2 separate regions of the Homo sapiens genome follow, and region 2 is linked to region 1. A link means that fine-mapping ties the variant in region 1 to the expression of a gene that starts in the linked region. Tissue or cell type: whole blood. Region 1 holds a variant in brackets; the other region holds the start of a gene. All regions are shown on one strand. Distances are from middle to middle.

Region 1 (8,102 bases):
TTGCAGACGTAGCATGAGCTTCACCTGACTCGTTCAGGTTCTGTGTCCCAATTAATGAAGGCTTAACTGGGGAGAAGAGGGCACTCTCACTGCCTTGGTGGCTCCTGCATGCAGTATCATTCCCGGGACCCTCCAGCTCTCTCCTCGCTCTGCTCCTGCATTCACTTCACAACGTGGCCCAAGTGCAGGTGGTTTTGGACCCATTTTCTGGCCTATGCATTTATTCCTTAGATGTCATGTCACCATCTTAGATTTAGCCCATTTGTAACATTTAATGTTCTCTACTTGCAAGGGGAATAGCAACAAATTCTGGCTGTGTGTGGTTTTTTTGTTTTTTTTTTTTGTTTTTTTTTTGTTTTTTTTTTTTTTTTTGAGGAATTTCTTTGAATGGTAGCTCTCAGAATACGAAGAATGTTGAACAACCAGGACACAAGTAGGACAGGAAAGAGGATCATTCTGGGAATCCAGGTAGCAGGAACCACCCAACACACTTTACAGGATGCTGCTATCACGAGGCATGCGCTCTAACTCTGTTCCATCACTCGACCCAAGATGGCAGTTCTGGGAACTAGAGAGGCTGGCCGGCCGGCCTGCGTTGCATGCCTGCCCCTTGGCAAGGAGGGAAGCATCTTGACGACAGTTCCTGCAAGGCTGCAGCCAGTGGGGCAGGCAGAGCGAGATGCTGCTATCGAAAGGTGAACAGATTGTTATCAGGGGAAAACGTTGCTATCCATGCTGATATCTTTATGTCATACCTCGAGCAAATTCTGAAGATGAAGGAAGCCGGGATGGGGAAGATTTAGTGCATTGTGCAGGGTAAGTGTGGTCAGGCTCTGGCAGAGTCTGTTCGTGGCTTGCTTCTGAGCAGCAGAGCCCTGCGGCAGGTAATCCTGAAGGCAGCTGTGCAGCCAGAGTGTGGCTGTATTATATATTATACGGCATATAATACATAGAACATCCTGTCTGGCAGGGCATCCTCGGTGGCTCAGTACAGCCACCAGACGAGTGAGCCACCATGCCTGTTGCTGTCTTAAAATATGACTTTTTCAGTCATCCAGCTATTATTCATAGCATGACAGGCACTGCTAGATGAGGCAAGACATATTCTCCTCAGAGAAGCAACAGTCTAGTACTCCGATGGGGGAAGTACAGGGCTCTGTGTCAGTGCCTGCTCCAGACAGGGAATGGGCTTCCGGGAGCAGGAGGTATCCAAGGTGAGTCTAGAAGGTTGAGTAGGAAAGAGTTTCTCCAGCAAACAGGCAGGTGGTGTAGGCATAGGGCCTTCCAGGCCGGGGCAGTAGCAGGCCGGGGCTACATGGGGAGTGGGCATAGTGTTCAGAGCCGACCTCACCTGGGGACAGGCTAGGACTTATGGAGTATATGTGGGTTCAGTGCTCACCACCCCACAGATAATGCCAGGGACCAGGCTTCGGCAGCAAGACGAATTCCAATGTCCACAGCTCGGGAGGCTTCCCCGCTTTTTGCTAACTGGGAGCCTCAGCTGCCTCCCTTTTCCTTCTCTCCTTGGGTCCTCATGGACTTCCTCCAGACCTGGCCCAGGCTGCTTGTTTCCCTCCTGGTGGCCACGCCTGGTACCACAGTGCTCTCCAACACAGGGAAAAAGTCCCCAACCGGCAGATAGGGACCCAGCTGTATACATCTGGAAAGTGAGCCAGTATTAAGCAGGCATATTTCCCAAAGACTTGTCATGGCACAGATTTGGTTTTTGGTGGGTTGACTTATATAATGACGAGTCCTGTAAACTCGAGTCCTGTGAATGAGCAGTTACATCTAGCAAGCCACGTTCCAAGTCACCTATGTAGAAGTACAGGCACCAGGACTGCCCTAGGATGTTGCAAGGATCAGACTGTGCTGGTGGTGTCCCTTCAAGGGACCAGACCCTCAGCCCTGTGGGGCTTTACGCTGGGACAAAAGGTACACACTATTAAAGTGTTAGCCTGTCAACATTTCACATGCCCTCCCACCAGGAACTTCCTTCCCAGCACACACCCCTTTGCTGGGGTTTCTCTGATCACTCAAGACCTCTCACTCTCTCCAGACTTGACTGCCAGCACTTCTTCCCTAGACCCCCATCAGCCAGCCAGCCACCACCTGCCATGCTTAACCCCCATGTATTGGGTATCCCCAGAAGTCAGGCTGTACCTTATTCCCCAGGAAAACAAAACAAAACAAAAAAAAAAAACAAAAAAACAAAAAAAAAAAAACAAGAAGAAGGCTGGTTGCAGTGGCTCATCCCGGCACTTTTTAAAAAATTACCTGGGCCGGGCACGGTGGCTCATACCTGTAATCCCAGCATGTTGGGAGGCCAAGGTGGGTGGATTACCTGAGGTCAGGAGTTTGAGACCAGCCTGGCCAACATGGTGAAACCCCGTCTCTACTAAAACTACAAAAATTAGCCAGGTGTGGTGGCATGCATCTGTAATTCCAGCTACTCAGGAGGCTGAGACAGGAGCATCGCTTGAACCTGGGTCACAGAGTTTGCACTGAGCCAAGATGGCGCCACTGCACTCCATCGTGGGGAGCCGAGTGAGACTCTGTCAAAAAAAAAAAAGAAAGAAAGAGAAGGAAGGGAGGGAGGGAGGGAAGAAAGGAAGGAAAAAATACATGAGAACTGCAGGAGATTACTTTTTACTGCAATATGCAATTTACTGAAGACACGAACTGCTCACATGGAGACGGTTAGCACCATATGGTATTGTAAGCAGATACTCACACGCTTGAGCTCATCACAATAGCAACAGGAGGTGGAAATAATTACAGTGGTATAGTCTGTGCTACAGTTAATTTTATGCAGTTATGATTTAATACTGCATCCTTACATTTGTTTACATTTCTCTTGACCGCAAATGGCAATGGCACTGTGTATTATCTGTGTGTACATATTTCGATAAATGTTAACTTTTGAAATAGATTTGTGTATATTTCATCAAAATATTTATAGAGAACAATCTGCATACAAGAGAACCCATACAGTTAAAATTGTGCTGTTCACAACCGAGTTAGGTGGCTCACGCCTGTAATCCCAGCACTTTGGGAGGCCGAGGCGGGCAGATCACTTGAGGTCTGGAATTTGAGACCAGCCTGACCAACATGGAGAAACCCTGCCTCTTCTAAAAATACAAAATTAGCCAGGCGTGGTGGCACATGCCGGTAATCCCAGCTACTTGGGAGGCTGAGGTAGAAGAATTGCTTGAACCCAGGAGGCAGAGGTTATGGTGAGCCGAGATCACGCCATTGCACTCCAGCCTGGGCAACAAGAGCAAAACTTCATCTCAAAAAAAAAAAAAAAATTGTGCTGTTCAAGGGTCAATTTATAGAGACACACAATTGATTTTTTTGTGTTTATCTTATATCCTCAGTGTTGCCGAAGAAATTACATTGTTTGGTTTTGAAATATTGAAATAACCTTGCATGCCTACAGTTAACCTCTCTTAGTCACTGTGTATAATTATTTTGTATATTGCTGAATTCTATTGCTATTTAACATTTTAAAAATAGGCTGGGCATGGTAGCTCATGCCTGTAATCCCAGCACTTTGGGAGGCTGAGGTGGGAGGATTTCCTGAGCCCAGGAGTTCAAGGCCAGCCTGGGCAACATGGCAATACCCAATCTCTTTAAAAAAATTTTTTTAAATACATTTGTTTTTGTTAGAGATGGGGGTCTTGATCTGTCCACCCAGGTTGGAGTGCGATGGTGCTCTGATAGTTTAGTGTAGTCTCAAACTCCTGGGCTCAAGCAATCCTCCTGCCTCAGCATTCTGAGTAGCTGGGACCACAGGTGTGTGCCATCATGCTTAGCTAATTTTTAAATTTTTTTTTTTGTAGAGACAGTATCTTGCCATGTTGCCCAGGCTGGTCTTGAACTCTTGGCCTCATGTGATTCTCCTGCCTCAGCCTCCCAAAGTGCTGGGGTTACAGGTATGAGCCACTGCACCTGACCCAAATCTTGAAAACATGTATTTAAGGCCGGGTGTGGTGGCTGACACCTGTAATCCCAGCACTTTGGGAGGCTGAGGCGGGCAGATCACCTGAGGTCAGGAGTTCGAGACCAGCCTAGACAACATGGTGAAACCCCATCTCTACTAAAAATACAAAAATTAGCCGGGCATGGTGGCAAGTGCCTGTAATCTCAGCTACTCGGGAGGCTGAGGCAGGAGAATCACTTGAACCCGGGAGGCAGAGGTTGCAGTGAGCCGAGATGGCACCACTGCACTCCAGCCTGGGTGACAGAGCAAGACTCTGTCTCAAAAAAAAAAAAAAAAAAACCATGTATTTAGAACTCTACCTAGAGATAAAGAATATTGCAAAATAAACTTTGGTGCTTCACCTGACCTCGTTTTGGGACCATGTTGTGGACAAACAACAGTCTAACAACCAAAAGTGTCTAAAGTAATTCTAATTTTTCAGAGATCCCCTTCATAAGCCATAGGAATGTCTCTTATACTTCCCACCCTCAAGATGGTTGTATTAGACAGGGTTTTCCAAAGAAACCGAACCAATAGGAGATACATAAATATAAATATAAATATAAGT[T/TAA]GTGTGTGTGTGTGTGTGTGTGTGTGTGTGTGTGTGTATGTGTGTGTGTGTGGAGAGAAAGAGAGATTTATTATAGGAATTGGCCCAAATGATTACGGAAACCATCAGGTCCCATGATCTACCACCTGCAAGCTGGAGAATCAGGAAATCTGAGGGTATAATTCGGGTTGAGTATGAAGGTATGAGAACCAGGAGCACTGATGTCCAAGAACAGGAGAAGAGGAATGTCCCAGCTCAAATAGAGAAACTGAATTCACCCTTCCTCAGCATTTTGTTCTTTTCAGGCCCTCAGTGGCTTGGATGACGCCTGCCCACATTGGTGAGGGTGATCTTCTTTACGCGGTATTTCAATTCAAATGCTAATCTATTCTGGAAACACCTTCACAAACACACCCAGCTATGTGGACATCCCTTAGCCCAGTTAAGTTGATATAAAAATTCACTGGGCACAGTGGCTCACACCTATAATCCCAGCACTTTGGGAGGCCGAGGTGGGCAGATCATGAGGTCAAGAGATCAAGACCATTCTGGCCAACATGGTGAAAACCCCATCTCTACTAAAAATACAAAAATTAGCTGGGTGTGGTGGCACGTGCCTGTAGTCCCAGCTACTCAGGAAGCTGAGGCAGGAGAATTGTTTGAACCCGGGAGGTGGAGTTTGCAGCCAGCCAAGATCGTGCCACTACAGTTCAGCCTGGCAACAGAGCGAGACTCCTTCTCAAAAAAAAAAAAAAAAAATTAAGCATCACAGAGGTGTTTTTAATAAGTACTCCTGGGTCAATTGAAAGTCCATAGTCCATTCAGAAAAAAAATATTGACTTCTACATTACTCCTACAGAGAAATCAATTGTAGATAAATTGTAAATGGTACGATAATAAAGCTCTTTTTTTTTTTTTTTTTTTTTGGGACGGAGTCTTCCTCTGTCACCCAGGCTGGAGTGCAGTGGCGCAATCTCGGCTCACTGCAAGCTCCACCTCCCAGGTTCACGCCATTCTCCTGCCTCAGCCTCCTGAGTAGCTGGGACTACAGGTGCCCGCCACACCGCCCGGCCTTTTTTTTTTTTTTTTTTTTTTTGAGACAGAGTCTCACTCTGTTGCCTAGGCCGGAGTGCAGTGGCATGATCTCAGCTCACTGTAACTTCCACCTCCTGGGTTCAAGCTATTCTTTTGCCTCAGCCTCCTGAGTAGCTGGGACTACAGGCATGCACCGCCACACCCGGCTAATTTTTGTATTTTTATTAGAGATGGGGTTTCGCCATGTTGGCCAGGCTGGTCTTGAACTCCTGACCTCAGGTGATTTGCCCTTCTCGGCCTCCCAAAGTGCTCAGATTACAGGTGTAAGCCACCATGCCTGGCATAATAAAGCTTTTTAGAAGAAAACAGGAGTATGTCTTAATAGCCTTTGAGTAAGCAAAGATTATTTCAACAGGACACAAAAAGAACTTTTATTCTTCACAAGATATCCTTAAAAGAGTGAAAATGCAAGCCATAGAATAGGAGATATTTGTAGTACATTTAACTGACAAAGAACTCATATTCAGGATATCTAAAGAACTAAAAATCAGTATGAAAAGGATAGAAAACCCAATTTTTACAAATGGGCAAAGGACTTGAACAGACACTTCACAAAAGAAAACATCCAAATGGCTAAAAAACATTAAACATTGTACAATCTCATTGATCACCAGAAGTACAAATTGAAGCCGCAGTCCAATACTACTACATCTGAATGGCTAAAAAAAATTTTGTAAAAAACAGAAAATGTCAAGTATTGACTAAGACAGCCAAGTATCTAGAAACAACCCAAATGTCTATCACAGGTAGAACAGACAAATAAATTGTGGGTATTCACACAATGGGATATCATACAGCAAGAATGAAGGAACTACAACTAGGCAGTGCCCAGCTTAGGTCCTGTCCTCTCAGCCCAACCCCCGGCAGAAATAGAGCCCCTTTTCCCAAATGGTTTCCAACATTAGCATAGTTTCATTACATGGAGATTTTGTATTTGCAAATTCTCCTACTTGCTAAAATTTATGTGTGACTCAAAATTAATACTCTTGACACTTTCTCAGCATTTTGGGGTCATTCAGGGTCATATACAATGTAGTGAAAATTTGAGTTATCCAATACACATTCCCAGCTGAGGTCAAACAAAGCAACACTTTGCTGTCTTGTTTCAGCTCATAATGTAAATATGTCCCTCAAGGTCTATTTAGTGCCATGGTTTTTACATTTTTGTGCTTTTTGTTGGTGATTTCACTGTTTTATTTATTTTTTTATATGTTTTTGAGACAAAGTCTTTCTCTGTCACCCAGGCTGGAGTGCAGTGGCATAATCACAGCTCACTGCAACCTTGACCACCTGGACTCAAGATATCCTCCTGCCTCAGCCTCCAAAGTAGTTGAGACTACAGGCACACTCCACCACACCCAGCTAACATTTTTATTTTTTGTAGAGATGGGGTCTTGCCACATCTTGAACTCCTGGGCTCAAGTGATCCTCCCACCTTGACTTCCCAAAGTGCTGGGATTAGTGCTGAGATTACGGGCATGAGCCACCATGCCCAGCCCTCTTTGAGCCACTTGATATCTACCAATAACTTTCTTTCTGCTTAAATCAGGTAGAATAGATGCTGTGGATCACAATTAGGAACCAAGCCTAACAATAGAAGATCCAACAGTTGCTAATGGATCATATCTACTCCACGTGGAAGAATAGGAAAACCTGGACTCTCTCTCTCTCTCTCAGGTCCTTCCTGTCAGCATTTACGCATGCTAAATTGATCTCATCTTTTAAAAAATTCTCTTAGCCATATACTCTCCTCCACCCCATTCTCTCCTACTTGTCTCAAATAGATAGATGATAGATAAATTTGGCTTTGTTGTGTTTTGCTTTTTTATAAAAGTAAACCAAATTCAGAGGACAGGCTAAACATCATCTGTGTTGACTGGACACAGATGAAGAGTGAATTAGTGAAATGAAGAACTGAAGATAGAGCTGAAGAAATACTCAGAATTCAGCACAAAGGCAAATAAAATAGAGGTATAAAACCTACAGGATAGAATAAAGTATGAAGTCTAACATAGGTCTACTCTGAATTCTAGGAGGAGCGTCTAGAGTAGACCTTTTAAAAAAATGTTTAGAGACAGAGTGTTGCTATGTTGCCCATGCCCAGCTCTTTGCAGAGGTATTGGCTGAGTCGTTTCCAGAATTCATGAAAGACGCAAATCATTCAATTCATAGGTCCATGTAGGATAATAAGTGATCCTGGAAAAAAGGTTTGGGATGAAAGAAGGAGTTGTGTGCCAATGAATTGATAAGCAAGTAGGTATATCAAACATTAACTGCACAAAAGATAAATAATAATGTTTAACTTGAGGGAAGCTATGAAAAATAACTAGATAGAAATAAGATAATGGACTATATGAGACAAAAGGGGATGATTGGTATGAGGAGAATGGTAGAGAACTTGAATAATTTTAGATTTTAGATAAAGTATGCATGTCAAATGATTAATATTCTAAAAGAGGGGAAATAGAGTTTATA
Region 2 (8,102 bases), 290 kb after region 1:
GCCTCATCCTCCCAAGTAGCTGGAGTTACAGGCATGCACCACCACGCCCGGCTAATTTTTGTATTTTATTTTATTTATTTTTTTTTATGAGACAGAGTCTCGCTCTGTCACCCAGGCTGGAGTGCAGTGGTGCCATCTCGGCTCACTGCAAGCTCCGCCTGCCAGGTTCAGGCCATTCTCCTGCCTCAGCCTCCCAAGTAGCTGGGACTACAGGCACCAGCCACCACGCCTGGCTAATTTTTTGCATTTTTAGTTTCACCATGTTAGCCAGGATGGTCTCTATCTCCTGACCTCGTGATCCGCCCGCCTCAGCCTCCCAAAGTGCTGGGATTACAGGCATGAGCCACCGCGCCCGGCCTAATTTTTGGATTTTAATGGTGACGCGGGTTTCACCATGTTGGCCAGGCTGGTCTCGAACTCCTGAATCCAAGTGATCTGCCTGCCTTGGCCTCCCAAAGTGCTGAGATTACAGGCACGAGCCACCGCACCCTGCCTGGAAAAGTACTTCTTAAAGGGAAGGCAAGAAAAGGGTGAAAAAAAGAAAAAGATTCTCCAGTGGTGAAAATTTGGGTATAAGCACCAAGTAGGAGGACACGTGTGGGGAAAGGATCAGGGGAAAGGGCTCTCAAAGCCAGCCATTCAGACTTCACCCAGTGAGGGCCCAGTGCAGCCCCCAAACTGATGTTTCAGCTCCCAGCCTACCTGAACCTGCCCAGGGGCCAGGGATGGCCAGCACAGCATCCCCAGGGGACTCTAGTGCCAAAATGGCCACACAGTCATGCCCATTCCACATCCATCATCCCCAACAAAGAACTCCAGCCCCAAAGTGCTCGTAACAAAGAAATTTTAATGCATAAGGCACAGTGAGAGGCTGGAATCATTAAGCATCCTCAAACACAAAGGGCCCAGCAGGCTGAGCAAAAGAACAGAGACACTCTCCCTCACTACCACTGGGCGCCCTGGACAGTCCCCTGAGGAGTAGGGGGCATCCAGTCTTTGGCACGGTGCCTGGGGGCAGGAAGTGACTAGCATGATCCCAGCTACCCCTCTGTGGGAATACTGCCACCAAGAGGCAGCTCTTTGGTCTGGATAAAGTCAGTGCAAATGTCCAGGGGTCAAGCTCTGGAGGAATGAGGGTGGCACAGTGCCCTAGGGCTGGGCAGTCTCTGAACAGTCTCCTCAGCCCTCATGGGCAACATGTGGGCTTCTTCTTGCTGGCAGTTAGGTAGAGGTTGCTGTCATCACTGTTGATGCCTAAAGAAGGGTGGAAAATATGTGAAGCAGGGATTGGAGGCTCACTGTGCCCTCTGCCACCCTCAACCAGGCAAGCACTCACGGACAACATCCCCAATGCGTCGAGCCCCCGATTTCTCCAGCTCAGCCAGCACATTGGCCTCAAAGGTCAGTGCTGCCACACGGAAGAAGAATTCTCGGACATTCTCACCTGACACAGAGAGCAGATAGGTGCTCAGGGGCAGTGCTGGGTCTGGGGACACAGGGCACAGCTGGAGGTGTAGCAGTGAGAGGAGAGCCAGGCAAGAGTGTCACAGCAGAGCCCTAAAGCCTCCAACTCACCAGTGAGAGATGAGACTGCCCAGTACTCAGCCTTCATCTCCTGGGCCACCTGGAGGGCGTCTTTCTCCATCAGCGCATACTGAGCAGGGGTCTGAGGGAAGGCCAGAGTCAGAGGGGGGCATTCCCTCACCAAGCTGGGAAGTCCCCCCACTGGCACACTCACACTCAGATCCTTCTTGGAACCTACAAGGAAGAGAAGCACACTGGAAGGGTCATTCTCCTTCAGGGCATCGGCCAGCCACTGCCTGCCATGGGAGGTGGAAAGTAAGGGATGAGTGAGTCTGCAGGGCCCCTCCCACTGACATTCATAGGCCCAATTACCCCCTCTCTGGTCCTACATGCATTCTTCTTCTTCCTGACCACCCCTCTGTTCTGAACCCTCTCTTCCCGGAGCCTCCCATTATATTGCAGGATGCTCACTTACTTGGTATGTTCCAGAGATGCCACATCATTCAGGTTGAAGACAATGATGATGGCTGGAAGAGTGGCAGAAACAGCCCCAGGTTGACAGGGAAGACACTACTGCTCATTTCCCCAATCCTTCCAGCTCCATATGAGAAGCCATGTGCACTCTGAGACCCACCTACCCCACTTCACCCAGCCCCTTACCTTGAGCTCCTCTATAGTAGGTTGATGCAATGCATTTGAACCTCTCCTGCCCAGCGGTATCCCAACTGGAAGGAAGGAAGAGTGAAGCACAGGTATGTATCTTGGGGGGTGTGGGTGCTGGGGAGAAGGGATAGCTGGAAGGGGTGTGGAAGCACTCACAGCTGCAAACTGAAGGGAATGCCCAGCACCTCAAATCGTTCCATCTCGAAGTCCACTCCAATGGTGGCCTTGTAATTCTTATCAAAGGTGTCTTTGCAGAACCTGAGAGGGTACCAGATGCTGTGATCTGGAGCCAGCCCACCTGGCTAGGCTTGGCCCCACCCTGCCCAGCTCAGCTCCAGCACCCCCTTACCTATTAATGAGGCAAGTCTTCCCCACCGACAGGTCCCCCACCACAATGACCTTGGAGATCTTAAATCTGCTGGACACAAGAGTGGGCAAGGGGAGTGGGCACGAGCTCTTTCACCCTAGGGAGTTCCAATGCTCCCGACTAGGTCCAGAAAGGTAGCTGCACCCAGGCTGAGGGTATTATAGACACCAGGCATCCCAGGCAGCTGCGTGGACAGGTGTGCTGGGGAGGAGGAGTGTTTTGTGCTCCAGAAGCAGAGAGACATGAATTTGAATCCCAGCTCTCACACTGATTAGCTGTGTGACTTTGGACACGTTATTTAGCCTCTCTAAGCCTCAGTTTAAACATTTAAGTAAAGTTAGTATATATTTTACTGGGTCGTTGTGAAGGTTAAAATGAGATAAATGTCCTATATTCTAAGACACCCTCCCCCCCGCATTTTAATGTCTGAAATCAGGATATATCTTAAGTGATGGACTTTTCCATTCAATAAAGATGATAGTACCCAACACTGCCTGGCACACAGCAAATGCTTAATTAATGGTGCCAACTGTTATCAGTATTACCTTTAAAACCCACAATAAGACTCATCCCTGTAAGCACAGCCAGACCCCTGCCCTGGGGCTCCATGGATGCTATGTGGGGATCTGAGCAGGTGACCACCTTCCCATTTCAGACACCTTAGTCTCTACTCAGAAATCCAGCTGCCACCCTTCTACCCAACCCCATCTCATAGAACTCACAACAACCTTGTTGGGAGAAAAGGAGGGGATACAGGGGCTTAAAGAGGGGGAAATAACCATATAGCTGGTAGGGGCTGAAATGAAGCCCCAAGGGGGTGGTTGTTTACCCTCGCTATGACTACAGAGTTTCCTGGGACCTCCTCTCTTTGTTGTGGGTGTCCCTAACTCACCCCACGGTGCCTGTCCGGTGCTCCTGGCAGGCGCAGGTGACGCGGGGGTGGAAGTCTTTGTGCCCGTGCAAAGCGGCCTCCTTCCTCAGGCACTTAGTGGGAAGGATGGAAGAGAATGGAGCTTCCTACTCCTGGCCCTTGTCCCGCAGCCAAGCGGCCCGGGTAGGGGTGGAGTGCAGGGACCACCCAGAAGCACCAGGCCTAGCTGGGTGGCAGGGCTGGGCCCAGTCCTCTAACTGGTCTGGTGCCGCCTCCTCCTCGCCCACACCCCGGGCTGTAGACTGAAGCCCGACGTGGCCCCGGCGCCTACCTGGGGCAGCTCCGCCAGGACGCGATCCCTCCGCACGGGTGCCAGAATGTTCATCCTGCCTGCGGCCTTGCAGGGCGCCCTGAGAAGGCGCCGAGGCCGGATCCGCGTCAGCGACCCGGGCGCGTGGAGACCCGACGATCACCCGCGGCCGGGGTGTCCCGACTACAACTCGGGGCCACGGGGACCCTACGGGAGTCCGCGGTCTCGGAGACGCTACGACCACCGCGGGCCACGGAGATGAAACAATCACCCGGGGCCGCGGCGAGCCCAAAATCACCCGGGCCCTGGGCGTCCCGAAGATGACTCTGGGGCGAGGAGACTCTTCGGCCGCCAATTGGGGGCGGGGAGTCCCGTCTGGTGGGGGCCGGGCCCGCGCAGACCCTACGATTACGCGGGGCCGGATAGTTCCTACGATTACGCGGGGCCGGATGGTTCCTACAATAACCCGGGGCCGCGGAGACCCGACGTCATCTCGGGGCTGAGGCTGCCCTACCATTACAGAGCGGCCCGGGGGCGCGGAGCGGCCCCGCCACACGGGGTCAGTGTGGGCAGGGGCGGCGCTGCCAAGGCCCGCAGGCCGCTGGAGGAGGGGGCGAGGGGCCCAGTCCGGCTACAGGGCCTCGAGTCCCACTCCGCTCGGGCTCCGCCAACGCTGTAACACGATCCCCGGAAATTCCTGGAGAAGGGCCGCCCCCCGCCCCTCTCCTGGCGGCTCCAGGCCTCGCTGCCCGCCCTCGCCACCCCCTCCTCTCCACCCTTCTGCGTTGCCCCGCTCAGGCTCCCTCTTTTGACGCTTCACCGGGCACCAGGACCGCCCCGACCCAGGCTGGAGCCTATCCAGATAGGGACTCCCCAGGCTGCTCTCCCCTGCACCTCTATACCCGGCTGCGCCTTCATGGGGACCCTTACCCAGCCGAATTGGTGATGGGGAATCGGAGACTGCTGCGCAGCATCTGGCGATGCCAGGAACCAGCAGGGAGGGGAAAGGGGGAGAGAAGGGGCCCAAGGAGAGGCGGCGCTTCCCTCCTCAACTCCAGGCCTGGGAGGTGACTCATAGAGTCTGCCCCCTCTCGCCCTTCTGCCCTGGGAGGTCGGGGGTGAGGATGGTGGAGGGGAAGCGTGCGAAGGGGGTGCCAGGGTTAGAATGAGGTGCCCACCGAGGAGAGAGACGTCTGAAGTCTGGCGTCTTTTCCTTCAAGGCTGCTGTGTAGATTGTGAGGTGGGAGGGCTGAAGATCAAGTTCCCTCGAGGGAGGTTAAAGAAGGGCTAAGTGGACCCGGAAACTCTGCTCTTCGGGGTGGTCTCCGCTCTGGGAGGCGGGGACTCCCCTCTGGTATGGGTGTTCATTGTTCTGGCCCCATTGGAATCTATCCCCCAGGGACAACTCCTTTGTGCAAAGTCCTGCAGGATAGAAGAGGGGGCAGTGCACAATCAATTTCACCGTCAAAGGGGACATGTCTGGTTTTATGAAGGGAGAGGGAAGAAGAAAGGATCAAGTGGGGATGGGTTAGGCACACACCTTAGGAGAAGCGAACCTGAGTGTTAAGAAACCTTTCTCTGTGTCTGGAGCTGAATTTGAGGATGTAAAGATGACCAGGACACGGAAGGGAAGACTAGTTTAGGGCAGGGGATTGTGAGTGAAGTTACTAACCGGAAAAACTAGCGAATCTTGGAGAAATGTGTGGAATTTTCATAGAACTTCAAATGCATTATCAGGAAACGCAGTAAAACTTGACAGTATCAGTGTCGCAGGTAAAGAGGGGCAGGTGTGGCCGCCTTGTACTTCCTCTGACACTTCCCCCTCGTGACTCGATTATTTATTTATTTATTTATTTATTTATTTTGAGACAGGGTCTCACTCTGCCACCCAGGCTGGAATGGCTCATTGCAGCCTCGACCTCCAGGGCTGAAGCGATCCTCCCACCTCAGCCTCCCAAGGAACTGGGACTACAGGCACGCACCACCACGCCCGGCTAATTTTTGTATTCTTTTGTAGAGACAGGGTTTCGCCGTGTTGCCCAGGGTGGTCTCGAACTCCTGGGCTCGAAGCAATTCGTCCACCTCGGCCTCACAAAGTGCTGGGATTACAGGCGTGAGTCACCGCGCCCGGCCCTGACTTGATTTTTTTCTGCCACCAAATCACTGTGTTATTGATAAACCACATTCCTCTCTGGACCTCAGTTCGACCGAGCAAATCCTGCTCCAGCACTCTAGAACTTAGCTGTATCTAACTCCCGAGTCAATCCAAATGTGTTCTTTCCTCTTGGCAGCGTTCCTGCCTCCTGGCATGGCAATCCTCTTCCCTGAGACTGGCAGTTGCTCAAGATAGGAAGCTCCCGGGACCAGACCCGAGCGCCAGCCGGCTACGCCGTCCGCTGGCCTGAGCAAATAAACGCGTGTCTTCAAAAAACTACAATCCCCATGGTGGCACGCGCCTGTAGTCCCAGCTACTCTGGTGGCTGAGGCAGGAGAATGGCGTAAACCCGGGAGGCGGAGCTTACAGTGAGCCGAGATCGCGCCACTGCACTCCAGCCTGGGCGACAGAGCGCTCAAAAAAAAAACAAAAAACAAAAAACAAAAAACTACAACCCCCATGAAGCTTTAGTGCCTTTGAGGGGAGGAGTGGCGCATGTTTGTTCACGCACGAAAAAGAAATTAAACCTAACTACCGTTCCCAGAGGGCGCCGCTCTGCAAATTACCCAATCAGCTCTAAGTACAAAGCATCGCGAGTCTTTAGTGCTCTTTGGCGCTATAAGCCCGTGGGAACGAGCATTGGAGACCCTTTTCACAAGATGGCGCCGAAAGCGAAGAAGGAAGGTGTGTGTTGGTGATGGGGCCGCAGCTGGTTTACCGGGGATTGCCGCGCCGCAGAGCGAACGAATTGGGAACACGGCTGCTGGGCTAAGCCCTGAGGGCTCTGCTCCGGGGCTGCTCCCTGCGTTTCGGACACGCTGCAGTATACGTGGGCCGCGTGGGCCCAGCCTCGTGGGCTGAGTTCCGGTAGAGGGAGTTGGGGGGGGGCAACGCGGCAGGCATCATCCGCCAGGGAGGGCCAGACATTCGGTTCTGGGAAGCTACATGCATCCACTGGTTGGAGCTCCATGTCCCCGGGCCTGTAAGGAATTAGTGCCCTCAGCTTTAACCATTTTCCTTCTGGTTCATGTTCAACCGGGCTACATTACCCGCCCCTCTCTCCGCAGCGTGGTTTTGCGATGGGGTATGTGTAAAATTCGTAGGACATTTTCTGGAAAGTATCAAGCGTTCATTCAGTGCTACTTTGTTTCATAGTCGTATCCCTGGAGTTACTTAGAGTTGGTCGCTTTCGCCTCTGGTATCGTGCATATGATGGAAAAGTTTTAATCTCCTGACACTTGTGATGTCTTCAAAGGAACCACTGATGCACCTGTGGCCAGGGTGGCCCACTGCAGTTCTTGGGGCCGGAAGTGACCGATTTCTAAATCCCGCACCCACGTTTTCTTTCCTTTTCTCCCAGCTCCTGCCCCTCCTAAAGCTGAAGCCAAAGCGAAGGCTTTAAAGGCCAAGAAGGCAGTGTTGAAAGGTGTCCACAGCCACAAAAAGAAGAAGATCCGCACGTCACCCACCTTCCGGCGGCCGAAGACACTGCGACTCCGGAGACAGCCCAAATATCCTCGGAAGAGCGCTCCCAGGAGAAACAAGTCAGTACTGCCCCCTGTACCCATGAAAAGATTTGGGTATTCTCCATTGGTAATTTGGAAATTCACTCACTCTGCGTGATGGTTTCTCAAACGCAAATTGTGTCCAGTGTGCTTCTCTAATTGGAAGTATGAGGAGATTGTTTCTGCTGCATTTACAAAACTGGCAGGATCAGCCCAGAGGCCGGGCGCGGTGGCTCACGTCTGTAATCCCAGCACTTTGGGAGGCCGAGGGGGGGCGGATCACTTGAGGTCAGGGGTTCGAGACCAGCCTGAGTGACATGGAGAAACCCCGCGTCTATTAAAAATAGAAAATTCGCCGGGCATGGTGGCGCATGTCTGTAATCCCAGCTACTCGCGGGAGGCTGAGGCAGGAGAATCGCTTGAACCCGGGAGGTGGAGGTTGCGGTGAGCGGAGATCGTACCATTGCATTCCAGCCTGGGCAATAAGAGTGAAACTCTGTCTCAAAAAAAAAAAAACCCTGAGTCTCTCAAAATTTGTTAGGTTAATTATTGCTTCACATGTGGTCACGGTTTGAAAACTTATTTTGGGGGGAGTATAAAGTAGAATACAGAGATTCCTTGCTCATAGCTCCTACTGCTATCGGGAACAATCCTTGAGGGTGAGAACGTGGATTGATTCTTGATTGATAGTGGGGATTCCATTATCT

The links. PIP is the estimated chance that this variant, and not a neighbour inherited with it, causes the effect.
Region 2: RAB34 starts here. The variant in region 1 is fine-mapped to the expression of RAB34 in whole blood (INTERVAL, PIP above 0.99).

The regions. Positions count from the first base shown.
Region 1 is chr17:28,424,816-28,432,917 of GRCh38, forward strand. No RefSeq gene overlaps it. Among named protein-coding and RNA genes, the nearest start is that of SLC46A1, 23 kb to the left of the region's middle. The variant T/TAA (reference allele first, on the strand shown) is at 4,554.
Region 2 is chr17:28,713,457-28,721,558 of GRCh38, forward strand. It overlaps RAB34 (RAB34, member RAS oncogene family), which reads right to left and starts at 4,412. Exons shown (of 10, transcript NM_031934.6): 1 at 3,757-4,412; 2 at 3,447-3,538; 3 at 2,537-2,602; 4 at 2,344-2,445; 5 at 2,185-2,249; 6 at 2,000-2,051; 7 at 1,739-1,820; 8 at 1,576-1,666; 9 at 1,337-1,444; 10 at 828-1,254. The coding sequence starts at 3,810. The coding sequence ends at 1,187. It overlaps RPL23A (ribosomal protein L23a), which reads left to right and starts at 6,529. Exons shown (of 5, transcript NM_000984.6): 1 at 6,529-6,574; 2 at 7,251-7,434. The coding sequence starts at 6,550. It overlaps SNORD42B (small nucleolar RNA, C/D box 42B), which reads left to right and starts at 7,094; the gene lies at 7,094-7,160. RefSeq lists a silencer at 4,245-4,504 and enhancers at 5,185-5,785, 5,786-6,387, 6,044-6,093, 6,524-6,743, 7,084-7,243.